4 separate regions of the Homo sapiens genome follow, and all the other regions are linked to region 2. The links come from fine-mapping of genetic effects on gene expression. A gene starts in region 2. Each other region holds a variant in brackets. All regions are shown on one strand. Distances are from middle to middle.

Region 1 (7,585 bases), 35 kb after region 2:
AGTGGGACTCCCCTGGGGACGGGGATGGGGACTGAGGTTGGGCAGCAGAACACCAGGGGGCCACACAGACCCCCAGGCTTCCTGATGCTGACACAGGTGGGAGCCCACCGTCAAGGCCAAGCAATACTGTGGACCGCAGACAGTCACATGTGTCACACCCCCTTCCTCCACACTACTCCAAACATTAGACGCCTGTAGTTCCCTGAGCATTGAAAATCTGTCCATCCTGGTGCCTGTACCGTGAGGAGCCCACCCCAGCTCCTAAGAGACTGGCTTGGCCTTTCCTGACTGGGGTTGGTATGGCCTAAAATGGAAATAACACTTACCTCTGAGACCACAAACAGGGCCTGGCTTGTGTCATCTTAGAAAACAGGGAAGAAGCCAGGCACGGTGGTTCATGCCTGTAATCCCAACACTTTGGGAGGCTGAGACAGGAGGATCACTTGAGCCCAGGAGTTTGAGGCTGCAGTGAGCTATCATCACACCACTGCACTCCAGCTTGGGTGACAGAGCGAGACCCTGTCTCTAAAAAAAAAAAGAAAAAGAAAAGAAAGAGAAGAAAAAGAGAGCATTTCTCCCCATGTCCCTGTGTAAAGTCCCAGGAAGGGGCTCTGACTGGCCAGCTTCACTCCTGGGCTGGTCACATTACAAGGAGACAGAACCAGCCTTGGTGGCCTCACTGCACAGGAGCCTGGGATGTGGGGGTGGCTGTCTCAAGAGGGGACATGGCACAAGAGCCCTCCCCTGGGGCTGCGCTGCACATGTCCCCCTGGGGAGGGATGCCTGGTTCCCCACCCTTTGTCCTGCATCCCCACATCCTGTGCTTCCCCAGCAGTGGACGAGCAGCTGTTCCGCTCCGTGGAGGGCCAGGCCGCCTCTGACGAGGAGGAGGTGGAGGAGGAGAGGTGGCAGGAGGAGAAGAAGACGCCGGCAGCCGAGGCCAAGACACTGCTGGCCCGGCTCTCCAGCTGCAGAGGCAGGTGTGTGGCCCGTCCAGCGTCAGCCACTGTGGGCCGCAGGCTCCAGAGGTGTCTGGGGAAGCCAGGAGCACCTGGGAGGCTGGTTAGCCTGGCTCAGCCACCTCCCAGCCCCTCTGCGACTCTGTCCCCTTGTCCCTCAGGGGGAGGTGGGAAGGCCCACCAGCATGTAGAGGATGAAGTGGGATGACCTTCCAGGGCACATCTCGTGGCTGGCTTTAATTCCCATTCGTGCTTTCTCACCAGCACCTGCACTGGAGCTCTTGTAGCACTCCCAGACACCAGTGTTCCTCTCAGACCCTTTCCCAACCCATCACCCCTCGCCACACACCATTTCCACAGCTCTCCAGCCTGGCCCCGGGCAGGTGCTGGCTCCCTGTTTCATCCTCACCTCCACCCCCATGGGGACCGAGGACAGGCCCAGGACACCTGGGACACCTCAGACAAGTCACCTGGCTTCTCCGAACCTCAGTCTTCTTGTCTCTAAGATGGGATGGTGACACTTGTGTGGCAGAGGCTGTGTGAGGATTTGAGGTCAAAGATATACAATGCCTAACAGGTGCCTGGTGCACAGTAGGTGGGAACGCCGGTGGGGGCAACAGTTATTAATGTATGGTAAAATGCTGTTGATTTTCTGGGGTTGTTTTTACCACCAATTCTTCATGTCAACAAGCACTTATAAAGCACCTACTACATGCCAGGCAAAATCTGAGGCACAGGGAAAATCGCAGTAAACCAGACAGTGGCCTCTTCTTCTGGATCCTCTAGTGAGTGTGACAGGCCTGAGGAAGAGGGGTCACACAGGGACAGGGACAGAGGCGGGGCAGGGAGATGCAGGGAAGGAAATGAGGGAATAAGCAATGCAGATGCTGGGGGAAGAGCATTCCAGGAAGAGGGAAGAGCAAGTGCAGAGGCCCTGAGGCATGTTGGCGGGACCGCCAGGAGGCCACTGTGGCTGGAGCAGTGTGAGTGCAGGTGGGTGGGAGGGAAGGTCAGAGAGCTCATGGGGCAGATCAGGTGAAGCCTTTGCCTTTTCCTCAGAGTGAGATGGGGGCCATGGGAGGGTACTGGGCAGGCAGGTGCCGTGGCCTGGCTTTGCTTTAGGAGGCCAACTCCACACCACCACCACCTCTCCAAGGCTGGACAGAGCGGGCTCTGGGAAGCAGCCCCCTGCAATGCGGGCCCTCTCCTTTGCTGCAGGTGTGATGACCAGACGGCGGAGAAGCTCATGACTTACTTTGGTCACTTCGGCGGTGCCAACCATGCCCATACCCTGGGGGAGCTGGAGGCCTGCATTGCCATGCTGGTGGAGCAGCTGAGGACTCAGGGCTGCGGTGGGAGGACCCTGGGGACCTCTGAGGAGGAGGTCAGCAGAGCCTAGAGATCAAAGGCTGGAGCAATTCTAGAGGATCTCACAGCTGGAAGGGTCTGAGGGATTGCAGCCAAGTCTTGTGCCTCATTCCCAGATGAGTAAACCAAGGCCCAGAGGGAGGTGATTTCCTCTGATTTAAATTTAATAAGAAATATTTTGGTTGCAAATTAAAGGATCCCACCTCAAATTAGCTTGATTGCAAAACAGATATTGGAACATGGAGCTGAGAAGAAGATGGTCTGGGCTTCAGGCACAGCTGGGTCCAGGGACTCAGACCAGATTGTCTCCATCTATCTGCTGTGTTTTTCTGTAGGAGGTGGCCTCACTTTCCCCTAGTTCAAAAGGGCTTACTCCATATGATGGGGGAAGGGAAGACAGGACCATGAACAGCCCTAGACTTCCATCAGCCCACCTGGGAAGCCCTCACAGGAAAATGAGTCTCATTCCTAGTACATGAAATCTCAGGGAGGAACTCCGATTGGCCACCTCAGTCATGTGCCCGTCCCTGGGCCAATCCCTGTGGTGGTGGGGCGGGTTCAGTGATTGGCACTGCCACCAAAGTCAGATGAAGTGGAGCAGGGGCAGTTTCCCAAAAGAAAGGAAGTGTGGTAGGAAGAAGAGGGAAAGGGGGGCCGAGCATCCAGCTGTCTCCATTTCAATACGACCACTTCGCATTTCTCATTCTCTCTACTCCATAGGAAAGTCTCTATTCCACAGTAGCCAAGTGTGCAATGCTGTTGAAAGTTGTCATTTCACTAAGCCCTAGCCCACTGTGCTTTTACAAACTGGTTTTGACATAGTTTTATATTTATACATCTGAAATTCTAAGTCTGTACTGCTTTTTACTTATATATGGCCTGATGAAGTCCTAGTTCCTTAAATAACTTTTTAAAAATGATACCAGCTGACTTGTACAACCCATGAACCACACGCTCGGTGCTGATGTGCTCTGTCTTATTTTATGTTCAAAGGGCCCAATGAGGTAGGAAACAGTTTGAGAGAGGTCAAATGGGCTGGGCTGGGAGCCCATGCCGCATCCACGCCAGTGTGCCCACCTTGAACCAAGGCAGCCACACCACTCCACCCTGAGGCCAGGGGTTGAGTCACTGGGGGCAGGAGGGAGCAGAGGGGCCTGTTTGGGCTCCAGCCTCTTAGTGCATGAAATCAGAGACCAAGACAGAAGGTAGCAGGCCCTGGAGCGCTGCAGTAGATTGGACAAAGACCAGGACTATGCAAACATTCTGCTGAAATGTGCAAAAGGAAACAAAGTTGAATGTCATTACAGGGCAAGCCAGTGTGGCTGCAGCTAAACCTTCCAGTGAGATCGGGTCTGCACCACCTCCAGCTTCTGGAACCCTTGCACCGGGATAGGGCCACCCCTCACTTACTCCCCAGAGAAGGCTGCTAACACCAAGTAGCATGGCATGGCGGTTATGTGCTGAAGCCAGACTGCCGGGATTCAAATCCTGACTCCATTTCCTGTGTGACCTTGGAAAAGTTACTCAACTTTTCTGTGCCTCGGTTTCCTCACCTGTGAAATGGGCATAATAATGGTACTATACACATGTATCAAACAGGTGAACACTTGTGGTGAGTGCTCAGCAAACA[T/G]GCGCCACGGCTGTCCCTGTTTCTAGCACTCTTCTGTGTTGTGCAGGTCTCCTAAGTTGAAAGTTGTTTCTACATTTTCTCCACCACCGCTCTGGTTTCCTGGAGGCCTTGATCTTGCCTGCCCAGGCACCCCTCAGGAAAGTCATAGCCCTGTGGCTGGGGAGGGTGGAGTGTTGTGGGCCATCAGGAAATAAACTGGCAGTCACAAAGTTCTGAAGGGCATAGCCACCCCTTTTCTAAGAATATTTAAAGGAAACAGGGCTTGGAGGATCCTAAAATTAGCTGGCCTTCCAGTCACATCCCTAAAGAGCAGAGGCACTGGGCCTTCCCTCTTCCTGCCCAAGCCCAGGGTGGACCCTGAGTGCCCTCAGGCACCACACTTTCCACTGCTTCTCTTTCCCTCCATTGGTGCCAGGGGAAGGGAATGCCTCGTGCCTGGCATGCCTGCTTTAGAAGGCAGGGGCCACAAAACACTTTGTGACTGCCTGGCATCCTAGTGTTACTGGGTACAACTGACGGTTTAGGTGGCCCCCTGGCCAAGAGTGGGCCCAAGACTCCGACTGGGCCAACCACGCCCCTCTCCTGGGGCTCTCCATGCTGGGGGATGGGGATGGCTGGAGAGGGTCTTTCTCGGCTGTGGCTCTTGGATAAGAGGCTTGGGACACTCCCACTGTCTCAACCCTGTCCCATTCCTGAGGTTCTCCAGCTGCTAGTCCATTCTGGGATCTGCCCACTAGCCTGCCATAAATTTCCTCTCTGTGTAAGCTAGCCAGATTGGCTTCTGCAGCTTCCCACTAAACTTAATTTGTTTGAAAGAAACAAAACCAGAGAAGAGAAGGGAGAATGGAGTCCTTAGAGTGGGAAACAAAATATACAACTCTTACATCAGTCCAACCCGCTGTGTGGCTTTAGGCCACACACTCAGCTTCTCTGGGCCTCAGCACCAGCCTCGGGGAGATGGAGTAGTTGATCCTGCCACCTGGAAGGCTGGGAGAGGCCAGCAAAGTGAGCACTGAGCCCCTTCTCTTCCCAGGCAGAGTTGCAGCAGAAGGTGGAAGAGAATGAGCACCTGAGGCTGGAGCTGCAGATGGTAGAGACCGAGAGGGTGCGGCTGTCCCTGCTGGAGGAGAAGCTGGTGGACGTGCTGCAGCTCCTGCAGAGGCTCCGGGACCTGGTAGGCTCACGGGAGAGCTGCCACACTCAGGGAAGGGAAAGGAGCTCTTGGGAGGGAGCCCCACTTGTGTCAGGCACCAGGCTCTAGGCTCTCCTTACAGTAGGCAGCTGTTATCCCATTTTACAGATGCAGAAATGGAGGCTCAGAAGAACCAACCAAAAATAGGGTTGGGGGGCTCCCCAGGTCATTTTAAGAAGCTAATAAAACTCTTGTATGTATCCTTTTCTGGTTCTGTTCTCAAAACCAGAAAAGGATAAATGGAAGAAAGACAAGAAAGGAAAATTATAAACTAATGTGACATTTAAACATGGATGCAAAATTATTAAATACAATACTAGCAAACCAAATCTGGCAGTGTTTAAAGAAATGCAACATGACCAAGTTGGACTTATCCTACAAATTCAAGGATGATTCCACATCAAAAAATCTATTACCAAAATACACCACATTGCAGATTAAAGGAGAAAGACCAAATGATCATCTCAATTGATGCAGAAAAGGAAGTCAATAAAATTCAATCTCCTTTGATTATAAAACCCCTCAGCAAATTAAGAATAGTAGGGATCTTCCTTCACCAGATAAGGGCTCTCAACCAAATACTTCATGCAGATCTCACACTGACTGGTGACGTGTTCAGAGGAATCCCCCTAAAATCAGATGTGGCTGGGCCTGGTGGTGCATGCCTGTAATCCCAGCACTTTGGGAGGCCTAGGTGGGTGGATCGCTTGAGCTCAGGAGTTCGAGACCAGCCTGGCCAATATGGTGAAACCCCCACCTCTACAAAAAAAAAAAAAAAATTAGCTGGGCATGGTGGTGTATGCCTGTGGTCCCAGCTACTTGGGAGGCTGAGGTGGGAGGATTGCCAAAGTCCAGGAGGCAAAAGTTGCAGTGAGCTGAGATTGTGCCACTGCACTCCAGCCTGGGTGACAGAGTAAGACCTTATCTCAAAAAAAAAAAAAATTAAAATTAAAATCAGACTCAAGACAAGAATGCCTGTCATCACTGTTTTCATGTGAAGCAGAGGTTCCATCCAGTGCAGCAAAAGGAAAGAGAAAGGCTATAAGGACTAGAAAGAAAGCAAGACCCAGGTCTGTGGGGCTCTGAAGTGGGCTGTGCCCTGTGCATTGGGCTGCCTGGGACCCAGAGCTGCCGAGGTCCAGCCCAATGTCCACGTCCTAGGCAAGCAGAGACCTGGGGATGGGCCCCAAGAGGCCAATCCTAGCCCAGGCAGGCAAGGGCAGTGGTTCCCAGCAGAGGCCATAGGCCATGCAGCCTCACGGTAGATGATGCAGCCCCTCCACCTCCCAGCTGGGTGGCTTTGGCAAATTTCGCATTCTTTCCCAGCATTGCTTTTTTCTGCTGGTTAAAATGGGCATAATAAAATAAGTTGTTGCAAAAATCAAATGAGCAAATGCATTAAAATGCTCTTAGGGTTATTTCTCAGTGTCTACCTGGGCACAGATGGTAATCCTTAGGTACGTGATCTTTGATGGCATGGATCCTGCCCACTGCCCCACTCGCCCTCCAAGAGTCTCTGGGAAGTGCAGTGTGGCCAGCCTAGGGGTAGGGGGCCAAGAAGCGATGAGGGTGGGGGAGGAGCTTTATCTGTCCCCAGGGAGCTGCCTAGAAGCCCGTAGGGGCCACCAGTTCCCATCGGCTGAACAGGGACACAGCAACCAGTCTAATCCAGCCTTGTTTCCATTTCTTTTTAAGAACATATCGAAAAGAGCCCTGGGGAAGATTTTGCTGAGCACGCTGGACGCTTTCAGGGACCCCACCCACGGTAGGAGAGCACCCTAGTCTCTCAGAGCCCACGCAGTGGCTGGAGGGTGTCCTGAGGAGGAGACTCCAGTGTGCTTCATGCTTAGCATCTTGTCTGCAAAACAATCATGTTATTCCTGCCCTGCATGCTTTAGAAAGCTGAAGGGGCTTTTAGCAAGAGCAGAGGCACAGAAGCCCCAGGCAGAAGTGCCAGACAGAAGCCCAGTGAGGGGATGGGTGGGCGCCACCGGCAGCACTGCAGCCACATGCGGGGGAGGTGCCCCAAGGGTTTTTAAACCCCTGAATCCTTACAATGGCCCTAGAAGGAATGAGTTGTTATCCCCTTTCCACAGAGGAAGAGACTGAGGCACAGGGGTCAAGTGCTGGCCACGCCCGAGGCTGGGGCATCTCCCTTAAGCACTCAATAACATGGACCCGGTGTTTAGACGAAGCTCAGGGAGCAGAACAGCAGGAATGCCAGCTTATGCCTGGGGCAGCCAGGCCGAGCTCCTGCCTCACGGGTCTTCACAGGCTGACAAGGCAACCAAGAGCCCTTTGCTCGCTGTCCTCCCCAGGCACCACTGGGCAGAGCTCAGATGCACCCACTGCCCTGAGCAGTCCCTGCCCTCATGGAGGAGATCAGAAATTGTGTGCTCCAAGTCCCCTCTCCAGGGTCCTCAGGGGGAGGTGGTC
Region 2 (7,585 bases):
CATGCCATTAACCAAAGCAAGTCATGAGGCTGGCCCCACTTCAAGGGGATGAAGACATGGACTGTACATCTGGTAAGCAGAGGGACAAGCATCCAGGGGCAGGAGGTGTTCAAGGTCACTGAACAATCCATCCCTTCATCCTTACTCTGCCGGGTGGAGGGTTCCCAAGCTCCCACAGGCTATGTAGAGGCCTTCCTGAAGCTATCCCAAGACTCTGGCAGCTGGAAGCATATTGGGAATCAGCTACATACACCTTCTTCTTGCCCCTTCCCCATTTTTAACAGCTTTATTGAAGTATTTTTTATTTAATAAAATCCATCCATTTCAAGCGTAGAATTCAATGATTTTCAGTAACTTTACCTAGTGCTGTAATCATCATCATAAATTCATTTTAGAACATTTTCATCCCCCTAATAAGACTTCATGCACATTTATAATTAATCTCTGTTCCAACTCCCAGTCCTAGGCAACCATATCTACTTTGTTTCTAAAAATTGGCCTTTTCTAGACATTTCCTATAAATTGAGTCAGACACTGTGTTCTGGCTTTGTGACTGGTTTCTTTCACCTACCGTTATGTTTCCAAGGTTTATTTATGTTGAGGCATGTGTCAGTATTTCATTCCTTTTCATGACTGAATAATATTCTATTGTATGGACAGACCACAGTTTGCCTATCCATTCATCAGTTAATGGGCATTTGGCTTGGGCATTTAGACATTTATGAACAACGTTGCTATGAACATTCCCACACAAGTCTTTGTGTGGATGTGTTTTCATCTCTCTTGGGTCGATATCTAGGAGTGGAAGAGTTGGGTCGTATGGTCATTTTGTGATTAACTTCTTGAGAAACTGCCAAACTATCTTCCACAGGGGCTGCATCATTTTGTGTTCCCATCAACAACATGAAGTTTCCTGTTTCTCCAAATTCTTGACAAGATTTATTGCCTGTTTTATTCACTACAGCTATTCTCATGAGTATAATATAGTATTTCATCATAGTTTTCATGTGCATTTCCCTAACAAGAATACTGAGATTGTTTTATGCACATGTTGGCTATTTATACAACTTCTTTGGTGAAATGTCTGTTTGTATCTTCACCCACTTTTTGATTGGATTGTTTGTCTTCTTGTTACTGAGTTGTTAAGAGTTCATTGTAAATTCGGAATATAAGTCCTTTACTGGGCATATGTTTTACAAATATTTTCTCCTAGTCTCTTGTTCGTCATATTTTCTTAATAGTGTCTTTTGAAGTGCAAATGTTTTGAACTTTGATGAAGGTCCGATTCATCATTTTTTTCTTTTTTGGATCATGCATTTGGTGTCGTATCTAAGAAATCTTTGACTAACAACAGGCCTATTTTTAATAGAAGTAAAGCTTGGTGTCTGAACACTAAGCAAATCTACTAACCAAGACCCCTAAAAACCCAAAAGCTTTATGACACTGAAAATAATGGCCCAAGGACATTCCCAGACAGTTCTGGGCTCTGGATAGAACAACACAAGTTTCCAAAAAACAGGCTGATAATACCACAAGCTTATAAAATATGTATACTCCTTGGCCCAGTAATAAATCACTCAAGATATGGCACAAACTGTTCACAGTATGGTTTTTGCGGAGAAAAGCTGAAAACCACCTCAGTGGGCATCTGTGGGGGATGACAAAGCACCTTATAGTTCATCCCCAGGGAGCACAGAGCAGCCTCTGGAGCAGTGTCTGCAAAGAAACCACAGCCAAGCTGTTTACAAAGCTCAGTTCCTGTGCAAAGAAAGATCCCAATGGCGCCCTTTCCACTGTGCTTTTCATGTCAAGTTGAATGAGCTACGATTTGCACACTGTAAAATTCAGATGTACACAGTCATGCAACCACTACACCATGAAGATAGAGTATTTCAATCACTCCAAAAAGTTCTTTCATGCCCAAATACATAGAAAAGTCTGGAAATAAATACATCAGAAATACACAGTGATCCTCTCTTGGTGGCAGAATGGTGGATGATTTTTGCTTTTTAGCATTTTCCCGGACCTTTAAAAGACACTTTAAACAATATACTATTTGAAATGGCTCAAACAATACTGAACTGACTTCAGAAAATCATTTCTTTGCCACAGCCCTGACTCTCTCCCACACAGACACACGCCCATCCCCCCAGCTCATACAAAAGAACGCAAGGAGACCTCTGAGTTTGCTCACTTTGAACCTTAAACAAAAACCTTGTGGATGCAACCAGAATTATTTCAGAGGTGCCTGGTAACACCGCAGGGCAGACAGACAGGCCTGACAGCAAACCATTATCAACCCTTACTTCCCTGAGCTGTAGGGGAGTGGAGGCCGGCAACGGCTCCCAGCAAGACATTTAAAAGCTTTCTTTTCAATATTGACTGGCCCAGGAAAGCTACTGTTCAAAGGATTCCTTCACCAGCTGCAGGGATGGGGGGTGGGGAGGGTGTTGCACTCTTGCCTGGGCTACCAGCTCTTAGGGCTGACATGAAATAAAATCAGGTTCTTTTTTTTTTTTTTTTTTTTTTTTTGAGACGGAGTCTCGCTCTGTCGCCCAGGCTGGAGTGCAATGGCAGGATCTCAGCTTACTGCAACCTCCGCCTCCCAGGTTCAAGCGATTCATCTGCCTCAGCCTCCCAAGTAACTGGGATTACAGGCGCCTGCCACCACGCCCAGCTAACTTTTGGTATTTTTAGTAGAGATGGGGGTGGTTCACTATGTTGTCCAGGCTGTTCTCGAACTCTTGACCTCAGGCAATCCACCCGCCTCGGCCTCCCAAAGTGGTGGGATTACAGGCGTGAGCCACCGCGACCGGCCAAGAAAAAGAAACACATGAGAACATCTTAACAAAAGGGAAATACTGCAGTGTCTCCCATCTGCAGAAAGAACCACTGAATCCACTTATGAATCCCTCCATCTTCTTCTGTGCACTCACATACACATGTCCTAGTAGAAAATACTTAGTATTGTTTTGTGTGTTTTTGTTCTTGTTATGTAAGCATCAGTGTTGTGCATAATCAGCTTGTGGCTTGCTGTGTCCGCTCATCCTCGTTTGCTGAGTCCTAGCTGATTTGATGGACACCAGGTTGTCTCCAGTTTCTCACTGTAATAAACAATGATGCAGTGAACATCCTGTGCACAGTGGCTTTCGAAGGTAGAAGCCAAGAAGTGGACGTGATGTAAAAACTTTGTCAAATTGCCATTACTTTTATAATTAAAAACAAACCTAAAAGAATATGTCCAAAATGCTTGGGGAGAAGCCTCTAACTCCTTCCCAGCAGATATGTACTCTGGGCAAAGCCTTCAAGAACAAGTACGAATTTGCCAAATGGACAACGTGCTGATTCTGGGATACTGTGGCAGAGGAGACAGAATGCTATCGCTTTTCAAACGGCAAGATTTTACATTTAAACTCACAGAGTTATCCACAAGGCAAGATTCTGTCTCTGTCATAGCTAGGAACAGCTGAAGAGTCTGCCTCTTGCTCCAACATGGCTGGGTACCGTGGCTGGATAACCGTTCCCGGTGCAGGTAACAGGTGGACAATATCACAATATCACTGCACCCCTCTCGTGAAAAAGAAAGGGAACACAGTCTAGCACTCACCAGAGAAGCAGGTTTTTCTTCATCTTCCAGAAATGTGTTCTAAAACACCAGAAAAAAACATCAGCCAATCATCGACCTGTTAACCTAACCCCAGCTCAAGAGATGGAACTCGGATCCCATTGCCAAGTCAGCACCGGCAGGCACAAAGGTGGCAGGGCCGGGAGACACCACTTTCCCGAGAGTCCTATCCCCACCCCCAACAGGGATCGGGAGAGAGCAGTTAGCACAGGGCTCGTCTCAGATGGGCTTCTCACCAGCGGGGTGCCCCTAACCTAGACCCCTTGCCTCTCCAAGCCTGTTTCCCTCTCTTTCCCAGTTACTACTTGGGGCTCTTTGCACGGTCTATGGTGGCACAAGAAGTGGGTTCGGAAACCCAGTAGCTGAATTGAAGCGGAGGGGAGGCTTTTCCGCACCTACGGCTACAGGGCGGCGAGAGCAGGCTTGCCAGGCAACCCTCGAAAGGCCTTCCGGGAAGAGGGGGAAGAGTGACGCTTGGGTGTGGGGGCACATCCCCAGCAACCGGACGAGGCCGCCACCCCCAAGGCCCTCCTGGGCTTCGGATCCCGCGCCAACCCCTCGCCCAGGTCTCGGAGCGAACTCTCCGCGCCAGGCGGGCGGGGCGGAGGGAGGAGGGAGTTGAGAGTGGACGGCCGGGAGTGGGAGGAAAAGCGCAGACGCCAGGAACGCCCCGTGAGTGAGGAGAGGAGAGCGTGGGAGTCACGCGGAGAAGCCAGACCCAGACGCCGACCGGGCACTGGTGGCGCTGCCGGGGTCCCGGGGGTTCCTGGACCCCCTACCCCAGGCCCCTCCAAAGCAACTGGGGTAAACCAGACGCACTGTGAGGCCAGCGCAGCTGCTGGACACGGTCCCCGGCGCCGCTCCAACCAGACCGCGACCGCTAAGCCCCTCCTTTCGAGAAACTCTGGGGCCGCCCCTGGAAGTGGCGGGGCGAAGGGACCGGAGGAGGGACCGGAGGAGCGAGGCGCGCGGCGCAGCGATGGAGCCGGTCAGCACGGGCGCGGAGGCCGGCATGGAGGGCGCGGGAGGTGACCCGTACCGGCGACCTGCGCGGCGCACGCAGTGGCTGCTGAGCGCCCTGGCGCACCACTACGGGCTGGACCGCGGCGTGGAGAACGAGATCGTGGTGCTGGCCACCGGCCTGGACCAGTACCTGCAGGAGGTCTTCCACCACCTGGACTGCCGCGGCGCCGGCCGTCTGCCCCGCGCCGACTTCCGAGCGCTCTGCGCTGTGCTGGGGCTGCGCGCGGAGGGGGCCACCACGGCCGGGCAGGCAGCAGGTGACGGGAACTCCAGAGATGTGACCCCCGGGGATGCGGCCGCTGAGTTGGCCACGGACGGGGACTCAGATACCGATGAAGAGGCGCGCCTGGCGCTGCGCGCCGAGCCGCCGGAGCTCACCTTCCGCCAGTTCCACGCGCGCCTCTGTGGCTACTTCGGCACCCGTGCGGGGCCCCGGCTGCCCCGCGGCGCTCTCAGCGAGCACATCGAGACGCAGATCCGCCTGCGCCGTCCGCGCCGCCGCCGCCGCCCGCCCTGCGCGCCTGGCCCCGACAGCGGTCCTGACTGTGAGCGCGTTGCGCGGCTGGAGGAGGAGAATAGCAGCTTGCGCGAGTTGGTGGAGGACCTGCGCGCCGCGCTGCAGAGCAGTGATGCGCGCTGCCTAGCACTGCAGGTGCGCGCCGGCCACGAAGGGAGGGTGGTAACGCCCGGGAGAGGGCTCGAACTAAAAGCTGGCTGGCTGCGGAGCCCGACAGGACAGAGTCAGAGGAAGGGGAGACAGAGGGCAGCCCCACACCATCCCACTCCGCATCAGCACACTTGCATCTTGCCCCTGTTCCTCCCCATTCCACTCCAGTCCCCAACCCTATTCTTACCACCTATTCCATTCCTGAAAACCCCAATCACACTCAAACAACCATACCCCACTTTTCTGCTCCACCGCCACATCATCGCGTCTTGCCCCTTTAACCTAGGAATTGCACCTGTCTGGGTAGTCTCACATATTCCCTTTCAACAAGCATCTTTCTCTCTCCTTCCTGCCAGGCTTCTGGGAGGTTTAGGAGACAGAAGTGTGAAGAAGGCCCTGTCCTCACCTTTAGGGATATCCCTGCCTCCTGGGGTAGACTGACAGCTCCTTCTGTCAATCAGCAAAGACTTATGGGGCTCCCTGTGGGAGAAACAGAGACAAGTGAGAAACAGACAATGTGGCTCACACTGTGGATCAGGCACTCACGGGCCACCAAGTGCCTGCGGGAACCAGACCCGCTCTGGGCTATTGAGAAGAAACCATGGGGTGAGATAGGGACCCAGCCTTAGCATCTGGGAGCCGTCGACAAACACTTAAGCACTGTGCCAGCCGAGCACCAAGGGCAGTGCTGGGCCGCAGGGGTCAGAGGAGGAAAGGAACAGCCCCTACCCCAGGCGACAACAGGCCAGGAAGAAACTGACATTATATGACCCCGCCTTAGCTCAGGACACTGCAGAGTGCAGGGAAGTGGCAAGGTGTGGTTTTCAGTGTCAGTGTGCATGGAAGCCAGGGTGGAGGCGGGAAACTACTCCTCTGATGTGGAATCCCAAGTAACGTACTGGGAGCCATGGGATGCGCCTGAACGGTCTTCCGGCATCTCTCATGCTTGGTATTTATTGAGCACCTACTATGTGCCAGGTTTGTTTTAGGCTCTGGGAACACACCAGTAAAGACAGATAGAAACCACCCTCAAAAGCCTCTAGTGAGCAGGCACGGGGAGGGCTGGAAATGCCACTGGGGGGAGTCTAGGAGATGAGGAACCGCCACCCGGCAGGCTGAACGCCGCCAATACAGTAGGCCGAGAAGAGTCGCGAGGTTGGTACTATAGAGGGAACAGAATACAGGCGTCGTGTCTCAGTTTCCTTCAGTGAAAAAACGTTGGGGGGTGGGGGATGAGGAGGAATCAGAGCTTGGGCCTCCCTGGGGATGTGGCGAGGGTTAAAGGAGCTTGGACGCACCGGACCTAAGGGCCTGGCACCCGGAAGCAGACGGCGCAAGAAACGTGCTCAAGCGCTTCTGGGTGCAGAGGCATGGGGCCGCCGTCGTGGCGGGCGTTCGTCTGGTGCATCTGGCTGGGGCACTTACCCCCTGCCCCTGCTGCCCTGTCCCCGCAGGTCGGACTCTGGAAGAGCCAGGCGAGCACCCACGAGATGGGGCACGGCGGGCCGGAGGCTGCGGTGCGGGAGCTGCGTCAGGCGCAGGGCGCCCTGGCTGCGGCGGAGGCCCGCGCTGGGCGGCTGCGCCGTGGCCAGGCCGAGGTGCGGCGGCGCGCGGAGGAGGCCCGGCAGGTGGTGCTGCGCAGCCTGCACCGCGTGCGAGAGCTGGAGGCGCTGGCGCAACAGGTGCCCGGCTTGCAGCGCTGGGTGCGGCGGCTGGAGGCGGAGCTGCAACGCTACAGGTGAGCGGGGGCGCGTGCCCTGGGCCCAAGTTCCCCAATTCGGCTCCCATTTTCCCAAACTTCGGGTGTGCAATCCCCCTCCCACGCGCTCTCGTGTTCCGCAGTTTCTCCATGCGTTTATTCATGTATTCTTTCATTCCTTTGTCAGTTCTCCATTTCTTAAGTTATAAGTCTGCTCCATTGCTTGCTCTGCAACCATCTGCCCACCCATCCATTTATCCATCCATCTGTCCATCCATTCACCCACCCCACACACCCACCCATCCATCCATCCATTTGTCCATTCACTCACCCCCCCCACCCACCCATCCATCCACTCACCCATCCATCCACTCACCCATTCATCCATCCACCTATCCACTCACCTACCCACCCGTCCATCCATCTATTCATCCATCCACTCACTCACCCACCCATCCACTCACCCACCCACCCATCCATCATCCATCCATCCCCCCACCCACCCAGCCAGCCAGCCGTCCATCCATCCTCCTGTTCATCCACAAACACCCTCTATTTGTTTATCATAGAT
Region 3 (7,585 bases), 43 kb before region 2:
CCACCCCGTCTGAGAAGTGAGGAGCCCCTCCGCCCGGCAGCTGCCCCGTCTGAGAAGTGAGGAGCCTCTCCGCCCAGCAGCCACCCCATCTGGGAAGTGAGGAGCATCTCCGCCCGGCAGCCACCCTGTCCGGGAGGGAGGTGAGGGGGGGTCAGCCCCCCGCCCGGCCAGCCGCCCCATCCGGGAGGGAGGTGGGGGGTCAGCCCCCCGCCCGGCCAGCCGTGCCATCCGGGAGGGAGGTGGGGGGGTCAGCCCCCCGCCCGGCCAGCCGCCCGGTCCGGGAGGTGAGGGGCGCCTCTGCCCGGCCGCCCCTACTGGGAAGTGAGGAGCCCCTCTGCCCGGCCAGCCGCCCCGTCCGGGAGGGAGGTGGGGGGGTCAGCCCTCCGCCCGGCCAGCCGCCCCGTCTGGGAGGTGAGGGGCGCCTCTGCCCGGCCGCCCCTACTGGGAAGAGAGGAGCCCCTCTGCCCGGCCAGCCGCCCCGTCCGGGAGGGAGGTGGGGGGGTCGGCCCCCCGCCCGGCCAGCCGCCCCGTCCGGGAGGGAGGTGGGGGTGTCGGCCCCCCGCCCGGCCAGCCGCCCCGTCCGGGAGGGAGGTGGGGCGGTCAGCCCCCCTGCCCGGCCAGCCGCCCCGTCCGGGAGGTGAGGGGCGCCTCTGCCCGGCCACCCCTACTGGGAAGTGAGGAGCCCCTCTGCCCGGCCAGCCGCCCCGTCCGCGAGGGAGGTGGGGGGGTCAGCCCCCCGCCCGGCCAGCCGCCCCGTCCGGGAGGGAGGTGGGGGGGGTCAGCCCCCCTGCCCGGCCAGCCGCCCCGTCCGGGAGGGAGGTGGGGGGGGTCAGCCCCCCTGCCCGGCCAGCCGCCCCGTCCGGGAGGTGAGGGGCGCCTCTGCCCGGCCGCCCCTACTGGGAAGTGAGGAGCCCCTCTGCCCGGCCAGCTGCCCCGTCCGCGAGGGAGGTGGGGGGGTCAGCCCCCCCGCCCGGCCAGCCGCCCCGTCCGGGAGGGAGGTGGGGGGGGGTCAGCCCCCCTGCCCGGCCAGCCGCCCCGTCCGGGAGGTGAGGGGCGCCTCTGCCCGGCCGCCCCTACTGGGAAGTGAGGAGCCCCTCTGCCTGGCCAGCCGCCCCGTCCGGGAGGGAGGTGGGGGGGTCAGCCCCCCGACCGGCCAGCCGCCCCATCCGGGAGGGAGGTGGGGGGGTCAGCCCCCCGCCCGGCCAGCCGCCCCGCCCAGGAGGTGAGGGGCGCCTCTGCCCGGCCGCCCCTACTGGGAAGTGAGGAGCCCCTCTGCCCAGCCACCACCCCGTCTGGGAGGTGTGCCCAACAGCTCATTGAGAACGGGCCAGGATGACAATGGCGGCTTTGTGGAATAGAAAGGCGGGAAAGGTGGGGAAAAGATTGAGAAATCGGATGGTTGCCGTGTCTGTGTAGAAAGAAGTAGACATGGGAGACTTTTCATTTTGTTCTGCACTAAGAAAAATTCCTCTGCCTTGGGATCCTGTTGATCTGTGACCTTACCCCCAACCCTGTGCTCTCTGAAACATGTGCTGTGTCCACTCAGGGTTAAATGGATTAAGGGCGGTGCAAGATGTGCTTTGTTAAACAGATGCTTGAAGGCAGCATGCTCGTTAAGAGTCATCACCAATCCCTAATCTCAAGTAATCAGGGACACAAACACTGCGGAAGGCCGCAGGGTCCTCTGCCTAGGAAAACCAGAGACCTTTGTTCACTTGTTTATCTGCTGACCTTCCCTCCACTATTGTCCCATGACCCTGCCAAATCCCCCTCTGTGAGAAACACCCAAGAATTATCAATAAAAAAATAAATTAAAAAAAAAAATAAAAAAAAAATAAAAAAATAAAAAAAAAAAAAGAAAATAGAAAGAAAAAAAGAAATTACCCAATCTGAACAACACAGGGGAAAAAAGACACAAAAATCAAAATCAGAACTTCAGGGCCCTGTGGGACTAAAACAAAAGAACTAATATTCATGTCATTGGAGTTTCAGAAGGAGAGGAGAAAAAAGGTGGTGCTGAAAAGTATTCCAATAAATAATGGCTAAAATTTTCTCAAATTTGGCAAAATACATAAGCCTATAGATTCAAAGAGCTGAGAGAACCCCAAATAAGATAAACACAAAGAAATCCACACCAAGACATGTCATAGTCAAACTTCTGTAAATTAATGACAAAGAAAGAAAATCTTGAAAGCTGCAAGAGATAAATGCCACCTTACTTATAGGGAAAAAAAAGTAATTTGAATGACAGCAGATTTCCCATCAGAAACTGTAGTGGTAAGAAGAAAGTGGTATAACATTTTTCAAGTGTTAAAAAAAAAAATCCAGCCAGGCACAGTGGCTCACACCTGTAACCCCAGCACTTTGGGAGGCCGAGGTGCGTGCATCACCTGAGGTCAGGAGTTTGACACTAGCCTGGCTAACATGGTGAAATTCTGTCTCTACTAAAAATACAAAAATTAGCCAGGCATGGTGGTGCATGCTCATAATCCCAGCTACTCAGGAGGCTGAGGCAGGAGAATCACTTGAACCCAGGAGGCAGACGTTGCAGTGAGCCAACATCATGCCACTACACTCCAGCCTGGGTGACAGAGCCAGACTCTCTCAAAAAAAAAAAAAAAAAAAAGAAATCAACCCCATTCTATACCAATTCTATATCCAGTAAGACTATCCTTCCAGAATGAAGGAAAAATAAAAACACCCTGAGACAAAGAACAACTAAAAGAATTTGTTTTCAGCAGATTTATCCTAGAAGAAAGGCGAAAGGAAGTTCTTGAAACAGAAAGGAAATGACAAAAGAAGTCTTGGAACATTAGAAAGGAAGAAAGGATAATGGAATAAGTAGAACCACGGGTAAACAAATACACTTTCCTTCAACCCTTGAGTTTTCTAGGTTATGTGTTATGTTTGACAGTTGAAGCAAAAAGTATAACATCATCTCATGTGGTTATCAATCTATGTAGAGGAAATATTTAGGGAAACTAAAGGGGTATGGAGGGAGGTAAAGTTTCTATATTTCACTCAAACTGGTAAAATATTGATACCAAGAGATTGCGAAAAGTTATGTTATGCGTTAAATATAATATCCAGAGTGCCACTAAAAATCTATACCAAGAGATATAAATTCAAAAATACTACAGATAAATCAAAATGGAATTCTAAAAATGGGTCAAGTAACCCACAAGAAAGCAGGAATAAAAACCAAGAGAAACAAAAAAACAGAAGGAACAGACAGAAAACAAAAATTAAAATGGTAGACTTAAGCTCTAATATATCAACATTTACTCTAAATATAATGGTCTAAATACGTCAATTAAAAGGCAGAGTAAATAAAGAAACATGACCAAACTACATGCAAGGCCATTATCCTGGAGTGGGGGAGAAGGCCAGTCTCAAAAGGTCACATGCTGGATGTTTTCATTTATATAACCACACCAGTTTCCTACGAAGCGCCATAAACTGGGGGG[G/T]GGCTTAAAATGACAGAAATTTATTGTCTCCCTGTTCTGAGGCTAGAAGTCAGAAATTAAGCTGTTGGCAGGGCCACATTTCCTCAGAAGGTGCTCAGGAAGGTCCTTCCTTGCCTCTTCCAGCTTCTGGTGGCCCCAGATGTCCCCTGGCATGTGGCAGCATCCACTTTCCATGTGGCGTTCTCTGTGTGTCACTTTGCATAGTCTTCCCTCTACGTGTGTCTGTCTCTGGGTCCAATTTTCCCCCTTTCATAAGGATACCCTAATGACCTCATTTCAACTTGACTACCTCTGCAAAGACCCTCTTTCCAAATAAGATCACATTCTGAGATACTGGGCGTTAGGAGTTCAACATACCATTTTTTGGAGGAACACAATTCAATCCTTAACAATAACATTTTCAAATTGACAAAAGTATAGAGATAGCAAATTAGTGGTTAGGGATGGTGGGTGTTAGGGGTTGTTGTGACTATAAAAGGGTAGCACGAAGGAGATCTTTGTGATGATAGAATATTTCTACATCTCAAGTGCTGTGACAGTTACATACATGTACAATAAAATGGCACAGACCTATATACACATTAGACTCATGTCAATGTGCTGATTTTGATATTGTGCTATAGTTATGAAACACCTAATTACTGAGGAAATTGGACAAAGGATACATGGGACCTCTCTGTACTGTCTTTGCAACTTTCCGTGAATCTATATTTTAAAGTATGACATATGTATATGGACATACTCACACTAAGACACACAAGCAGTTTCAGAAGACAAAAAGGGCTGGCACTGTGGCTTACACCTATAATCCTAGCACTTTGGGAGGCCACGGCAGGAGGATCACTTGATCCCAGGAGTTCAGGACCAGCCTGCGCAACATGGCAAAACCCTGTCTCTACAAAAAATACAAAAACTAGCTGGGTGTGGTGGCGTGTGCCTGCAGTCTCAGCTACTAGGGAGGCTAAGGCAGGAGGATCACCTGAGCCCAGGAGGTTGAGGCTGCAGTAAGTTATGATCACACCACTGCACTCCAGACAGGGCAGTGGAGTGAGACCCTGTCTCAAAAAAATTTTTTTAAAAAAGGAGACAAGGTTGGACGCAGTGGCTGACACCTGTAATCCCAACACTTTGGGAGGCCAAGGCAGGTGGATCACCTGAGGTCAGGAGTTTGAGACCAGATTGACCAACATGGAGAAACCCTGTCTCTACTAAAAATACAAAATTAGCCGGGCGTGGTGGCAAATGCCTGTAATCCCAGCTACTCGGGAGGCTGAGGCAGAAGAATCGCTTGAACCCAGGAGGTGGAGGTTGTGGTGAGCTGAGATTGCACCCCTGCACTCCAGCCTGGGCAACAAGAGCAAAATTCTGCCTCAAATAAATAAATAAATAAAATAAAAAAGACGACAAAAAGGATTTTATAAGCATTTGGAGAAACAAAAAACAGTTCGCATACAAAGGTTCAACTTCAATGAAAATAAAAGATGATGGAACAATGCCTTCAAAACTCTGAAGGCAAATGATTTTTAGCCTAGAATTCTATATGCAGCCAAACTACCAGTCATGTGTAAGGATAAAAAAAGGTAGAAAAAAATATATCTGCAGACATATGAGATCTCAAAAATAAATCTCCCATTGACCTTTTCTCGAGAAGCTACTAGAGGATGCACTCCAGCAAAACCAGACAGCAAATAAAGGGAGAGAATTCAGGAGACAGGGATCCAACCAGAAGAGGGAACAAGGAACTCACAGAATAAACAGCAGTGCTGAACCTGGTTGGTTCACAATGAGTGAGCATCCCGCTGGCAACTGCCACAGGAAGAGGGAAGCCTGGGGGCTCCTGAAGGGAGGTTCATGACCTGCATGTGAAGAGCACCTGCGGCATAGTAGGAGACCTCAGGACTGGTCACACCTAATCCCAGGAACCCCATCTCTTTTGTATCTCACTGTGGGATCCTAAATGGTAAAATACAGGTGATAACTGTCAGGCCTCTGAGCCCAGGCCAGGCCATCACATCCCCTGTGACTTGCACGTATACATCCAGATGGCCTGAAGTAACTGAAGATCCACAAAAGAAATAAAAACAGCCTTAACTGATGACATTCCACCATTGTGATTTGTTCCCGCCCCACCCTAACTGATCAATGTACTTTGTAGTCTCCCCCACCCTTAAGAAGGTTCTTTGTAATTCTCCCCACTCTTGAGAATGTATTTTGTGAGATCCACCCCTGCCCACCAGAGAACAACCCCCTTTGACTGTAATTTTCCATTACCTTCCCAAATCCTATAAAACGGCCCCACTCCCTTCGCTGACTCTCTTTTCGGACTCAGCCCGCCTGCACCCAGGTGAAATAAACAGCCATGTTGCTCACACAAAGCCTGTTTGGTGGTCTCTTCACACGGACGCGCATGAAATGTGGTGCCGTGACTCGGATCGGGGGACCTCCCTTGGGAGATCAATCCCCCGTCCTCCTGCTCTTTGCTCCGTGAGAAAGATCCACCTCTATGACCTCAGGTCCTCAGACCGACCAGCCCAAGAAACATCTCACCAATTTCAAATCCGGTAAGCGGCCTCTTTTGACTCTCTTCTCCAACCTCCCTCACTATCCCTCAACCTCTTTCTCCTTTCAATCTTGGTGCCACACTTCAATCTCTCCCTTAATTTCAATTCCTTTCATTTTCTGGTAGAGACAAAAGAGACACGTTTTATCCGTGGACCCAAAACTCCGGCGCCGGTCACGGACTGGGAAGGCAGCCTTCCCTTGGTGTTTAATCATTGCAGGGACGCTCTCTGATTATACACCCACGTTTCAAGGGTGTCAGACCACGCAGGGACGCCTGCCTTGGTCCTTCACCCTTAGCGGCTAGTCCCGCTTTTCTGGGGAAGGGGCAAGTACCCGTGAACCCCTTCTCCTTCACCCTCAGCGGCAAGTCCCGCTTTCCTGGGGCAGGGGCAAGTACCCCTCAACCCCTTCTCCTTCACCCTCAGCGGCAAGTCCCACTTTCCTGGGGCAGGGGCAAGTACCCCTCAACCCCTTCTCCTTCACCCTTAGCGGCAAGTCCCGCTTTTCTAGGGGGCAAGAACCCCCAAACCCCTTCCCTCCGGGTCTCTATGCTCTCTTTTCTCTGGGTTTGCTTCCTTCACTATGGGCAACCTTCCACCCTCCATTCCTCCTCCTTCTCCCTTAGCCTGTGTGCTCAAGAACTTAAAACCTCTTCAACTCACACCTGACCTAAAACCTAAATGCCTTATTTTCTTCTGCAATGCCGCTTGACCCCAATACAAACTCAACAGTAGTTCCAAATAGCCAGAAAATGGCACTTTAAATTTTTCCATCCTGCAAGATCTAAATAATTCTTGTCGTAAAATAGGCAAACGGTCTGAGGTGCCTGACGTCCCGGCATTCTTTTACACATCAGTCCCTTCCTAGTCGCTGTGCCCAGGGCAACTCCTCCCAAATCTTCCTTCTTTCCCTCCCGCCTGTCCCCTCAGTCCCAACCCCAAGCATCACTGACTCTTTCTAATCTTCCTTTTCTACAGACCCATCTGACCTCTCCCCTCCTCACCAGGCCGAGCTAGGTCCCAATTCTTCCTCAGCCTCCGCTCCTCCACCCTATAATCCTTTTATCACCTCCCCTCCTCACACCTGGTCCTGCTTATGGTTTTCATTCCGTGACTAGCCCTCCCCCACCTGCCCAGCAATTTACTCTTAAAAAGGTGGCTGGAGCTGAAGGCATAGTCAAGGTTAATGCTCCTTTTTCTTTATCCCAAATCAGATAGCGTTTAGGCTCTTTTTCATCAAATATAAAAACCCAACCCAGTTCATGGCAGCAACCCTGAGACGCTTTACAGCCCTAGACCCTAAAAGGTCAAAAGGCTGTCTTATTCTCAATATACATTTTATTACCCAATCTGCTCCCGACATTAAATAAAACTCCAAAAATTAAATTCCGGCCCTCAAACCCCACAACAGGATTGAATTAACCTCTCCTTCAAGGTGTACAATAATAGGAAAAAGTTGCAATTCCTTGCCTCCACTGTGAGACAAATCCCAGCCACATCTCCAGCACACAAGAACTTCCAAACGCCTGAACCGCAGTGGCCAGGTGTTCCTCCAGA
Region 4 (7,585 bases), 23 kb after region 2:
GATCAGCACTGTCCAACTGGACTTTATGAGATGATGGAAACGCTTTCTGGCTGCACTGGTAGCTGTGAGCCACAGGTAGCTACTGAGCACTTGATGTAGCTAGCATAACTGAGGAACTGAATTCTTAGTTTTATTTAACTTTGATTAAATTTACTTTTTTTTTTTTTTTTTTTTTGAGACTGAGTTTCGCTCTTGTTGCCCAGGCTGGAGTGCAATGGTATGATCTCAGCTCACTGCAACCTCCACCTCCCAGATTCAAGCGATTCTCCTGCCTCAGCCTCCCAAGTAGCTGGGACTATAGGTACCCACCACCACGCCCGGCTAATTTTTGTATTTTTAGTAGAGACAGGTTTTCACCATGTTGGCCAGGCTGGTCTCGAACTCCTGACCTCAGGTGATCCACCTACCTCAGCCTCCCAAAGTGCTGGGATTACAGGTATGAGCCATCGCAACCAGCCTGATTAAATTTAAATAGCTACATGTGACTGTGGTTACCATATTGGACGATGCAGGCCAGATTAAAACACTAGGACAGCACTGCAGAAATTTATGCATTTATTTGAGGTTTTAGGGGGTAAAATGAGAAACAGAAAAGGAAAGATGAACAAGCAGGAAGCTGTAAACAGAGTGTGGGAGTTAATATTTGTTAAGTGCCTACTCTGTGCCAGGCACATACATCCCTAATTTAGCCCTGACTTGCACCCTATGAGCTTGGGTGACTTACTCCCATTTAAAAGATTGGGAAGGCTGGACAGATGGCCCACACCTGTAATCCCAGCATTTTGGGAGGCCGAGATGGGTGAATCACTTGAGCCCAGGAGTTCAAGATCAACCTGGGCAACATAGTGAGACTCCATCTCTACAAAAAATACAAAAATTGGCTGAGCATGGTGGCCTGCACCTGTGGTCCCAGCTACTGAGGAGGCTGAGGTGGGAGGATCACTTGAGCCTGGGAGGTTGAGGCTGCAGTGAGCTGAGATCACGCCACTGCATTCCAGCCTGGGCAACAGAGTAACACCCTGTCTCAATAAATAAATAATAAAATGATGGGAAAGTTGAGTCTCAAAGAGGTGAAAGACTTGGTAAGGCACGCTTATTGGAGTGGCTGGCCCAGGATTAAACAGACACAGGCCAGATGCCCTTCTCAAAAGGCTCTGTGAGCCCAGAGGCTCCAGGGGAGGGAGCCAGGAAGGTTACAGGCTGGCTGGGCACTTGCAGACGGGAACCCTGGACACCACCCTTCTGAAGGCTGGGGCATGGTCCAGTGTGCTGACCTGGCAGCCTCCAAGTCCAAACCCACAGGGGTGGGCACCTCGTAGTCCCAGGGTGAGGCTGCCGTGGCCAGTGGGATGTAAGGCCTCATGAGAGCTGGGAGGGGTCTGGAACAGGGCATCTCCTTGGGAGCAGTATCTCCCCCAGGACTTTCTGGAAATTCGTGGGGAGGAGGGTTTGCCTCAGTGACTGGAAGGGTGGTGCTCCTGACACATGAGGGGCCCTGCCAGGGAAACAAGGCTCTGGGCAGATCCTGTATGACCAAGCATCACCCCAAACCCCACATGAGCTCCATGTGTCCTGCTGGACATTTATGCTGCGCAAACCTCACTTTCGTCATGATGATCTGAGACTGGAGCCCACCTCTGTCTTATATATAAACACAGGGTTTTCCACAAGGTTTTAATATACAAAGGGTTTTCCAAGAATCCGATGCTGTGTGAGTTGAGGGAAGGTCACACTTTGTTTTGTTTGGCATTTTCCAAGAGTTGCTCATCATTTCAGAGGCACATCAAAGACAGTGACAAAACTCATGGTGCTTAAGCTGCTGGCAGGGAATGCCTGGCCTGTAGTCCCAGCTACTGGGGAGGCTCAGGCAGGAGAATCGCTTGAACCCGGGAGGCGGAGGTTGTGGTGAGACTAGATCATGCCATTGCACTCCAGCCTGGGCAACAAGATTGAAACTCCGTCTCAAAAAACAAACAAACAAACAAAAAACACTGGCAGTCCTTATGCTTGTACTGTGAGTCTGCGCGGGTATCTGTCTATTTATCAATCCATCTATCAATCTGGATATTTTAAAATGCCAAATATAGGGAAAGATTATCAACAACATTCAGTTGAATGTTACCTTGCCCCTCTTAAATTCAAATGTATCCATCACAGACAGGTTAAAGTATCTGAAAATTTCATTGTTTGTGAGTATTTACATATTGAAATGTATATCATAAAACTCCTTTCCTTTTCTTTCTCTTTTAAATTACCATTAGGGCATCACATTAATTTTTTTTTGAAGTACATCTGAAAATAGGGCATATTACGTATTCAGCTCATTTTGGAATAGCACAGGGCCATTGTAGAAAGAGGGCGTCAGTGTGTTAGGGTTGGGGTCCTCTGCTGTGAGGGGCAGAGGTGGCCGGGGCAGGCGCAGAGCTCTGCTCTCACAGCACCCAGAACTCACCGTGTGCTGGTGTCTAAGCATTTACCAAGCTTCAGATCCTCTAGGATCAATGTCATTTTTTTGTCATATCTATATAGAACCTGTATTATTTTCAAATATTACCAGGGGCAGGAGCTCCACAAAGTTTAGAAGGACCATGTCATTTCATTTCATCCTCATAGGACCGCCAGGCCCAGCTAGCACAGAGTCCCCAGCAGTGTTGACTGATTAATCAATGAGGAAAATGAAATAGAGGCTCAGAGACGGGGAGGGAGTTGTGCAGGTCACACAGCAAAGCCACAGTCCTGAGGGTGGAACCCAGGTTTGCGGCTCCTCAGATCCACCTCTTTGCATCACAGAACTGAAGGAGGGGTCTGTTACATGAAGATCTGGAGCCAGGAGCCAGGAGTGGCCAGGACAGCGGAAGGGAGGAAGAGCAACATCTGGCCCTTGTCAGATTGTATAAGCCCCTGGGCTGGCGGCCAGATGTGGCCATCAGCCTCCAGCAGGAGGAAGACATCAGAGGCTCACCCGGCCTCCGGATGCTGTGCAGATGTGGCCAGCTGGAGGGAACACCCAACCGCACACAAGGACTCTGGGGTCTGCCAGGAAGTGAGGGTGTGAGGGGAGGGTGGGTGGCTACTGGGGCCTGCCTTTCCCCAGAACTGCCTGGAGCCCTGACAGAGGTGCTTCAGTAATGCCTGTTGAGTGACAAGTGTCTCTGCAGCTCACAGAAGGCCCCCAGACCATTTCCCCCATGGCTCCCGAAAGACAGTGGCCCAGAAGTGCGGCAGGCAGGGGTGAATGTGGGAGTCGCGGGCC[G/A]GAAAGCACAGGGCAGGGAGGTTGGGCCTTTGCCATACTTTTCCAGCACCGGTTCCCAAGCTGTGGTTTGGAGCTGAGAAGTCTCCAACTTCTCCTCACAGTTGCTAGCCTCTCTTGAATGGACAGAGAACAGCCTCGGGTTCAGAGGCAGACAGAAAATAAGATCTAGCTAGAACTGACTAACTGTGTTTCATTCTTGCTTTATGTATTTTTAGGGTGTTAAAAGGAAAACTTTAGACATATTAAATTTAACAGAGTTTATCTGAGTAAAGAACAAGTCATGAATTGGGCAGCTGTCAGGGACAGCAGAGGTTTGGGGAGCTCAGCCTGCTATTTGTTACAAATATATGCTTCTAAATTAGAGTTTGATTTCTTCACATACTAAGTTCGGCTTCAGATCATCACTCAAAGTACAGAGACAGCCTCAGGCTAATGGCCTCTTGCTTCTTTTTTTTTTTTTTTTTGAGACAGAGTCTTGAGTCTTGCTCAGTCACCCAGGCTAGAGTGCAGGCTAGAGCGCAGTGGTGCGATCTTGGCTCACTGCAAGCTCTGCCTCCTGGGTTCACGGCATTCTCCTGCCTCAGCCTCCCGAGTAGCTGGGACTACAGGCGCCCGCCACCATGCCTGGCTAATTTTGGTTTTGTATTTTTAGTAGAGACGAGGTTTCACCATGTTAGCCAGGATGGTCTCGACCTCCTGACCTCATGATCCACCCGCCTCGGCCTCCCAAAGTGCTGGGATTACAGGCGTGAGCCACCGCGCCTGGCCACCTCTTGATTCTTAAATTTAACAATGGTTACTATTTATGGCAAGAGATGCTGGGTTTTCATTATTGGTTATAATATTTACCACTACATAAAATATGTATTAGTAAATAAAAGGACAAATGACCAAAAATGTCTGCAGCTTAGGAATCTGCATTATCCTATCACGTAGGGTCCACCCCTCTCTGAGGTGCACAGAGGGCTTAGCCCCATTCCACAGGACAAAGCTGATAGGAACTGGGAATGGTAGGACTCAACCCATGTCTTGTGGCTCCAGATCTAGTGCTCTTCCTTCTCTGTCCTTTCTGGAACAATCCAAGAGCAGGTGAATAGGTGATAGGAGTAAACTGGATGCTTACCCAGGCTCTGGTCTTGTCCCTGGCCTGGCCTTTCCTTGCACTTCCACCCCTAAATCCCATTCATTCATTTGACAAACCTTCATTGGGCCACTCAGTCCCTGTGCTAACTGTCCTCAAGGAAATCCCAGTCTGGTGAGAGAGAAACACCATAACACACCACACGAGGGCTCTAGGAGCCAGGAGAGGTGTCTTATTCATATTTATTTGTTCTGCTGTAACAGAATACCACAGACTGGGTAATTTATAAAGAAAAGAAATTTGGGGCTGGGTCTAGTGGCTCACACCTGTAATCCCAGCACCTTTGGAAAGCCGAGTCAGGCAGATCACTTGAGGCCAGGAGTTCAAGACCCGCCTGGCCAACATGGTAAAACCCTTTCTCTACTAAAAATACAAAATTAGCCAGGCATGGTTGCACACACCTGTAGTCCCAACTACTCGGGAGGCTGAGGCAGGAGAATCACTTGAACCTGAGAGGCAGAGGTTGCAGTGAGCCGAGATTGCACCACTGCACTCCAGCCTGGGTGACAGAGCAAGACTCCGTCGCAAAAAAAAAGAAAAAAAAAAAGAAAAAGAAAAACAGAAATTTAGCTAAGGGTTCTGGAGGCTGGGAAGTAAAGGGCATGTCACATCTGGCCATAGGCTTCTTGGTGCACCGTTCCAGGGAAGAAGGTAGAAGAACAAAAGAGGGAGAGAGGGAGACAAACGCATTCCTGTATCTGGAGCCCACTCCTGCAGTAATGGTGTGGATCCACTCGTGAGGGCAGAGCTCTCATGGCCTGATCACCTCTTCAAGGCCCCACCTCTCTACACTGTTGCATTGGGGATTAGGTTTCCAACACGTGAACTTTGGGGGACACATTCAAACCATAGCAGAGGGAGAGGTGAGTTCTGAGAAAGTGACATTTTTGTTGGGGTGGGAGAACGAAGAACCAGGAGGATTTTCTGGGCACTACTTGCTGGAGCCAAACCCAGCGGCCACTCTTTGGGTGGTCAAGTGGGTGATGGCACACTTCACTGAGGGAGGGAGGAGCAGATGGAGGAAGACCAGGACAAGTCCAGGTGGCATGAGAGGCTGTGAGAAGCCTGTGGGACATCCAAATAGAGGTGCCACAGTTAAGTTCGGGCGCTTGTCAGGAACTGGATCTGAGCCCGAGGTTCAAGAGAGAGGCCAGAGCTGGAGATAAGAAGTAGGAAGTCATGGGCACGCAAAGCCATGGCGTTGGCTGAGACTCCTCCTAGAGCGAGTGCACACTGAGGAGAGAAGAGGTCCTCAGAGGGCATCCCAGGGCTCACCGGCATTAGGGGTCGGGACGGAGAGGCAAAATGGCGAAGAGTGCCAGGGAGGCAGGAGGAATCCCAGAGGAGAGCAGTCTCCCGGAAGCCACGGGAAGAGTGTGTAAGCGAGGGAGGAATCTGATGTCCAATCCTTTCTCTTTAGGCCAAGTCAAATGCGTGCTGAGAACTGGCCATTGGGCTTGGCAGCCCAGTGCCGTGGGTGATGTGACGGGGACCAAGACATGATTGGGGCAGCATGTGTAGTAGGCACAGTGCTTTCAAGTTTTCTGTCAAGTAGGGCAGAGTAAGGGTGGTAGCTGGGAAAGTCATATGGTCAGAGGATGTTTTGTGTATTTGCTTGTTTGAAGGTGGAGCTATTATAGCATGTGAGTGTGATGAGGGGTGGCTGATCTGCTGAATAATCCAGCAGAGAGAGGGGCAATGGGAGAAGCAGTTGAATACTGGTCACTAGACAACAGTAGCACACCCCAGGGCTCCCTGAGGAAGCACTTGTTCCATTTCTCTGTAGCCACATTTTACTTCTTGGAAAATTCCAAAGAGTGTCCTCATCTGTCCTGCTCTCCAGATGGCTCTGTTCTCTTCCCAGCTTCACTGCCTGTGACCTGGAGTTACCCACTGACAACGGCAGCTGGGCCGGGTCATTCCAGAGCCTGCCTTCCAAGCTTCCCTTGTGCCTGGCATGTGGGCCTGGAGCCTCCCGCCTGAGTGCAGACCCCACCTCTCCCGCGGTGCGGCTCCAGCAGCTTCCTCCAGCTCTTAGTGCTTTGGTTTCCTCCTCTGTAAATGGAGATAATGACCTTACCTGTTATAGGGTTTTCATGAGGAAGATGTTTGAAATATTGAGAACAGCTTTCAGAACATTCTGAAGGGTTTAGTTGGTATTGTCGTTGCTGTCCGTGCAGGAAGCTGTGCCTGGAGCAGGCTTTCTAAGACACATGCAAGTGCTAGGAGGTGGAGTGTGGGGATCCAGTCCACCCCAGGCAGCCTGTGCCAGGAAACATTTAAACAGGCCCCTGGGGGTAAAAGCTGTCCCTCCATCTCATTTTGCTTGTTGAAACCCTTAAATGATTTAGGGAATAGAAGAAGCAGCAGCATCTCATAGTGGAAAGATTTCAATATTAATGTCTAATTCAACCTCCAACTGTATTCACAATTCCAGCCGCTGAAGTCCCTTACCTGCTGACATACCTCCTCTGCCAAGAAGCTCACTGCCTTCCACAGCACATCCATCATTCTTCATCAGCAGTTCCTGCGAGAAAGTTGTTCCTCCCAGTGAGCTAAAATCGCCTCCCTTTGATTACCAACTCCCATCTTTGCTGTCTCACCCCAGTTAAACACCTCCCTATGGGGCCATATAACCAGGTACCTGCCTCTACCCTTGAGTCTTGGAGACAGTGACCTTATTCCCTTGTGTCTTTTCTTCTCCAGGCTGTAGTCTGGAGCCTGTGGAGTAGGGAGATACTGGCACCTCCCCAGTGAGATCTCAACTATTATGACCTAAGCTGTAGTCACGCGGTCTCACATTGAAGCAAGAATCCCCACCCGGGGGTTTTCACACTGGTTGCTGCTAAGCAACGTGCCCATTCTCGGCTTGCACTGGGGGACCCTGAATGCAGGATTTTATGAATCAGAGTCATGGGCTCAAAAAACACGAAATTCCAGGGTTAGCCCTGGCTTTAGGCAAAGCCTGATCCAGCAGCTCAACTGATGTTACTAAGGGTCCTGTTTCTTTTGCCGTCATCTTTGGGCTCTATCTGCAGCCCCCAAGCATCTCCGGACGGCCCCCTCAGAGGCACAACTTCCCGCTTCGTCGGTCATCATGCTCCGCGCCCTCAGGCAGTCAGCGAAACGCCGGAAACGCCTGCAGACGCCTGCAGACGCTCCTTGTGTTTCATTGGCTACCCGTGCAGCCC

What was found. PIP is the estimated chance that this variant, and not a neighbour inherited with it, causes the effect.
Region 1: its variant is the best candidate, but not a certain one, in a credible set for the expression of EFCC1 in breast (GTEx, PIP 0.75).
Region 3: its variant is the best candidate, but not a certain one, in a credible set for the expression of EFCC1 in whole blood (TOPMed, PIP 0.53).
Region 4: its variant is the best candidate, but not a certain one, in a credible set for the expression of EFCC1 in left ventricle (GTEx, PIP 0.90).

What each region holds. Positions count from the first base shown.
Region 1 is chr3:129,031,987-129,039,571 of GRCh38, forward strand. EFCC1 (EF-hand and coiled-coil domain containing 1) reads left to right here. Exons shown (of 8, transcript NM_001377500.1): 4 at 833-980; 5 at 2,178-2,343; 6 at 4,991-5,131; 7 at 6,845-6,914. Among named protein-coding and RNA genes, the nearest start is that of GP9, 25 kb to the right of the region's middle. RefSeq lists enhancers at 1,546-2,100, 6,158-7,133, 7,134-7,585. The variant T/G (reference allele first, on the strand shown) is at 3,958.
Region 2 is chr3:128,997,025-129,004,609 of GRCh38, forward strand. It overlaps EFCC1 (EF-hand and coiled-coil domain containing 1), which reads left to right and starts at 4,280. Exons shown (of 8, transcript NM_001377500.1): 1 at 4,280-5,300; 2 at 6,770-7,053. The coding sequence starts at 4,605. It also overlaps a transcript of CFAP92 not described here.
Region 3 is chr3:128,954,372-128,961,956 of GRCh38, forward strand. All of the region lies in intron 9 of CFAP92 (cilia and flagella associated protein 92 (putative)), which reads right to left. Among named protein-coding and RNA genes, the nearest start is that of CFAP92, 36 kb to the right of the region's middle. The variant G/T (reference allele first, on the strand shown) is at 3,468.
Region 4 is chr3:129,019,611-129,027,195 of GRCh38, forward strand. All of the region lies in intron 2 of EFCC1 (EF-hand and coiled-coil domain containing 1), which reads left to right. It also overlaps a transcript of CFAP92 not described here. Among named protein-coding and RNA genes, the nearest start is that of EFCC1, 22 kb to the left of the region's middle. RefSeq lists a silencer at 7,466-7,585. The variant G/A (reference allele first, on the strand shown) is at 3,254.